2 separate regions of the Homo sapiens genome follow, and region 1 is linked to region 2. Evidence: fine-mapped expression QTL. Tissue or cell type: whole blood. Region 2 holds a variant in brackets; the other region holds the start of a gene. All regions are shown on one strand. Distances are between the middles of the regions.

What was found. PIP is the estimated chance that this variant, and not a neighbour inherited with it, causes the effect.
Region 1: SESTD1 starts here. The variant in region 2 is fine-mapped to the expression of SESTD1 in whole blood (TOPMed, PIP 0.99).

What each region holds. Positions count from the first base shown.
Region 1 is chr2:179,263,742-179,266,429 of GRCh38, forward strand. SESTD1 (SEC14 and spectrin domain containing 1) reads right to left here and starts at 1,091. Exons shown (of 18, transcript NM_178123.5): 1 at 758-1,091. RefSeq lists silencers at 221-384, 493-562, 573-1,192.
Region 2 is chr2:179,061,289-179,063,976 of GRCh38, forward strand. No RefSeq gene overlaps it. Among named protein-coding and RNA genes, the nearest start is that of CCDC141, 12 kb to the left of the region's middle. The variant G/A (reference allele first, on the strand shown) is at 1,328.

The DNA.
Region 1 (2,688 bases), 200 kb after region 2:
CCTCAAGAGCTGGTCAGACTGCGGCTCTTTTCTAATATGAGTCTACCTAAAATAGAAAAATAAACACAACCACAGACCCTGGCCAACCCTCTCTCTCCTCCCCTTTGTGACTCTCCCAAACGCTGGAGGGATGTTAACCTCTGGCAGGCCCGTGGAAGCCAAGCCCCGCGACCTGAGGAGGCGTCCAGGAGCCTCGGCGCAGCCCTGGGGCCTCGAGCCCGTGTCCTCCACCCACCCGACAGGGCCGGTCACCGGTCACACAAAGGAGCCAGTCGCGGGCGCTGGACGCGGGACTCGCCCGAGAGCAGGGAGCCACATCTGGTTCCTGCACGCTGGCAAAAGAGACCCGCTGGAAAATAAGGACTAACGCCCAAACCTGTTGCACAATTCGGGTCCCTTTCACCCAGAAATGAACAAGGGCGCTCAGGAACGGAAAAGCGCGCGGCCCGGTCTCTGCGGGCCGCGGCCGCACCCGGCAGACGGCGCGGAGGCAAAGGCGGCCCGCAGGGCTCCCACCTCCGGCGCTTTGTCTGTGGCGGCAAGGCGGTGGGGGCGGTCGGGGCGTTGGGAGCAGAGGCGGTGGCGGGGCGGGGGCGCCCCTCCTTCACTGCGTAGCCCCTCCGCCCCGCGGCCCGCGCAGGGGAAGAAAGCCGGGCCCGCTACCGCCGCCGCCGCCGACTGCACCGGCCCAAGCCGGCCACCCGGCCGCGGGGCCTGCGCGCTTCTCCCGCCCGGGCCGAGCGGCGGCCACACTCACCTGGCTGGCGCTGACGCTAGCGGCCGGCGGCTCCGGGGCGTTGGGGAAGACAGGGGAACGCTAGCGAGGTGCGGGCGGAGGCGGAGGGCGCGGCGGGAGGAAGGCGGGCTGGGGGCGGAGCGGGCCCGGGCGGCGGCGGCAGCAGCGGCGACGGCTGCGGCTCCAGTCACTCGCGGCAAATCGCGTCCCGGCCCCTCCGTGCGTCAGGCGGGGAGCGGGGGTGCGGGTGGCCCGGCGACCTCTCGGCACCCGCGGCCCGAGCCGCGTCCGCGCGACCCCGCGCGCGCCCGGGTGACGGCGGTACAGCAACCCGCCCGGCGCGGGAAGGAGGAAGGAGGCGGGGCGGGGCGGGGCGTCCAACCGGGCCTGGGGCTGAGGGCTGGGCGCGAGTGGGACTCTGGCGCTCCGGACGGACCCTGCCGTCCCCACCCCTAGCCGAGGCCCAGGCTCCCCAGGCGGGAGGCAGTCTTGGAGAGTGGAAGGGTACCTAGATCTGGAGTCAGAAGTCTGGGCTTAAGAGAGGGTCCGTTACTTGACACCCTGGCAGGTCATTTATTTCCTCTGGCCTCATGCTGGAGTTCGAAGGTTCGAGTACAAAGTCTCCAAGAGCTGCTCCCAAGTACTCACTGCCAAGCGGTGGTGTGGCTGAAGGATGAAGGCAGATGAAAGGGAAAGGGTTGCGGTGAGGAAGGGCTGGATTCAGGGCATTTGTTTTGCTTTGAGGATCTTTCCACTGGACAGTCCAAAATTAATCCACAATGGGGCTCCCTGATAATGGCTACTTCCCCATTTTTACCAACCTAGTTATTTTTCTCCAAGTATACTGACTTAAGAGTCCTTGTTTTCATTTTATTGCGCAAATCATTTGTATGTCATTTCCTGAATTCAGTTCAAAAGAGTCATCAGCAAATTCACACCAGATCAGAGCAGCTGTGTGGTCCCAATTTCAAGACTTCCATATTATTCACTCAGCCACTCACTTCAGTATCACCTAATTCCGTTGATAAAATCTTCCTATTCCAACAACTAAGCAACCAAATTTCTCTCCACTAAAGTTTTCTGACTTAAAATCCCGTGGATTAATTCTTCCTCTTAATTCTGTGAATATCAGTCTGTCTCCATGACTTCCACCTCTTTGCCACTCTAGGTCAAGCCTTTAACTTCACTGCTGCTTCAGTTCCATATAACTGCCAGAGAGAATGCTCCAAAAAGACAGAGCTAAGCATGAAACGTCCCTCTTTAAAATCATTCAAAGTCTCTCCACCTGGTTGAATCAGGTTCAAACTCATTACCATGGTTTACAAAGCCATTTAAAATCTGATCTATTGACCTCCTTGGCTCCAGCTTCAACTCCTAATATATCTACGTATCACACAAATTCAACAGACTTTGTCTTTGTGCCCTTGTAGTTTTCCCCCACCTGAAATCCATCCCTCATTTAACCAGTTGAACTCCTATTGTCCTTCAAGATAATGAAGATAATGCATCCCTTCCTCCTTGGAATCTTCCCTGACATCATCTCCTTTCACCACATCTGTATCCTTACCCCACACATTTACAATGAATTAAATACTCTTTTTCTCTCTGCTTTCATAAAATCGTCTATCTACAGTATTCCCTATGATAATCTTTAATACTTGCTTTTTTCCTGTTGCTTTGCTTGGTGGCCTTTTCTTCCTAGACTGTGTGTTCCTTAAAAGGACAGGGATTTTGTCTAGTTCATTTTTTTTGCTCCCCAGAACATAGCACAGTGCTCAGCACAAAAAAGGTTCTCTTTAACTGTTTGCTGAAGCGTTGAAATAATTTTCCATCCCAACAAATAGATGTTGAGCATCTACTCAACGAAAAGAAAATACAGGGAAGTCCACAGTCCCAGCCTTTTTTAGCCTTCCGTGGTATTCTGTTTTTCCCTTCTCTACTATGTGGCATTC
Region 2 (2,688 bases):
GTCATTTAGCATTAGGTATATCTCCTAATGCTATCCCTCCCCGCTCCCCGCAGCCCACAACAGTCCCCAGAGTGTGATGTTCCCCTTCCTGTGTCCATGTGATCTCACTGTTCAATTCCCACCTATGAGTGAGAATATACGGTGTTTGGTTTTTTGTTCTTGCGATAGTTTACTGAGAATGATGATTTCCAATTCCATACATGTCCCTACAAAGGACATGAACTCATCATTTTTTATTGCTGCATAGTATTCCATGGTGTATATGTGCCACATTTTCTTAATCCAGTCTATCATTGTTGGACATTTGGGTTGGTTCCAAGTCTTTGCTATTGTGAATAGAGCTGCAATAAACATACCTGTGCATGTGTCTTTATAGCAGCATGATTTATAATCCTTTGGGTATATATCCAGTAATGGGATGGCTGGGTCAAATGGTATTTCTAGTTCTAGATCCCTGAGGAATCTCCACACTGACTTCCACAATGGTTGAACTAGTTTACAGTCCCACCAACAGTGTAAAAGTGTTCCTATTTCTCCACATCCTCTCCAGCACCTGTTGTTTCCTGACTTTTTAATGATTGCCATTCTAACTGGTGTGAGATGGTATCTCATTGTGGTTTTGACTTGCATTTCTCTGATGGCCAGTGATGGTGAGCATTTTTTCATGTGTTTTTTGGCTGCATAAATGTCTTCTTTTGAGAAGTGTCTGTTCATGTCCTTCGCCCACTTTTTGATGGGGTTGTTTGTTTTTTTCTTGTAAATTTGTTTGAGTTCATTGTAGATTCTGGATATTAGCCCTTTGTCAGATGAGTAGGTTGCGAAAATTTTCTCCCATTTTGTAGGTTGCCTGTTCACTCTGATGGTAGTTTCTTTTGCTGTGCAGAAGCTCTTTAGTTTAATTAGATCCCATTTGTCAATTTTGGCTTTTGTTGCCATTGCTTTTGGTGTTTTAGACATGAAGTCCTTGCCCATGCCTATGTCCTGAATGGTAAAGCCTAGGTTTTCTTCTAGGGTTTTTATGGTTTTAGGTCTAACATTTAAGTCTTTAATCCATCTTGAATTAATTTTTGTATAAGGTATAAGGAAGGGATCCAGTTTCAGCTTTCTACATATGGCTAGCCAGTTTTCCCAGCACCATTTATTAAATAGTGAATCCTTTCCCCATTGCTTGTTTTTGTCAGGTTTGTCAAAGATCAGATAGTTGTAGATACACGGTGTTATTTCTGAGGGCTCTGTTCTGTTCCATTGATCTATATCTCTGTTTTGGTACCAGTACCATGCTGTTTTGGTTACTGTAGACTTGTAGTATAGTTTGAAGTCAGGTAGC[G/A]TGATGCCTCCAGTGTTGTTCTTTTGGCTTAGGATTGACTTGCTGATGCGGGCTCTTTTTTGGTTCCATATGAACTTTAAAGTAGTTTTTTCCAATTCTGTGAAGAAAGTCATTAGTAGCTTGATGGGGATGGCATTGAATCTATAAATTACCTTGGGCAGTATGGCCATTTTCACGATATTGATTCTTCCTACCCATGAGCATGGAATGTTCTTCCATTTGTTTGTATCCTCTTTTATTTCATTGAGCAGTGGTTTGTAGTTCTCCTTGAAGAGGTCCTTCACATCCCTTGTAAGTTGGATTCCTAGATACTTTATTCTCTTTGAAGCAATTGTGAATGGGAGTTCACTCATGATTTGGCTCTCTGTTTGTTATTGGTGTATAAGAATGCTTGTGATTTTTGTACATTGATTTTGTATCCTGAGACTTTGCTGAAGTTGCTTATCACCTTAAGGAGATTTTGGGCTGAGACAATGGGGTTTTCTAGATATACAATCATGTCATCTGCAAACAGGGACAATTTGACTTCCTCTTTTCCTAACTGAATACCCTTTATTTCCTTTTCCTGCCTGGTTGCCCTGGCCAGGACTTCCAACACTATGTTGAATAGGAGTGGTGAGAGAGGGCATCCCTGTCTTGTGCCAGTTTTCAAAGGGAATGCTTCCAGTTTTTGCCCATTCAGTATGATATTGGCTGTGGGTTTGTCATAGATAGCTCTTATTATTTTGAGATACGTCCCATTAATACCTAATTTATTGAGAGTTTTTAGCATGAAGCGTTGTTGAATTTTGTCAAAGGCTTTTCTGCATCTATTGAGATAATCGTGGTTTTTGTCTTTGGTTCTGTTTATATGCTGGATTACATTTATTCATTTGCGTATATTGAACCAGCCTTGCATCCAAGGGATGAAGCCCACTTGATCATGGTGGATAAGCTTTTTGATGTGCTGCTGGATTCGGTTTGCCAGTATTTTATTGAGGATTTTTGCATCAATGTTCATCAAGGATATTGGTCTAAAATTCTCTTTTTTGGTTGTGTCACTGCCAGCCTTTGGTATCAGGATGATGCTGGCCTCATAAAATGAGTTAGGGAGGATTCCCTCTTTTTCTATTGATTGGAATAGTTTCAGAAGGAATGGTACCAGTTCCTCCTTGTACCTCTGGTAGAATTTCGCTGTGAATCCATCTGGTCCTGGACTCTGTTTGTTGGTAAGCTACTGATTATTGCCACAATGTCAAAGTCTGTTATTGGTCTGTTCAGAGAGTCAACTTCTTCCTGGTTTAGTCTTGGGAGGGTGTATGTGTCAAGGAATTTATCCATTTCTTCTAGATTTTCTAGTTTATTTGCATAGAGGTGTTTGT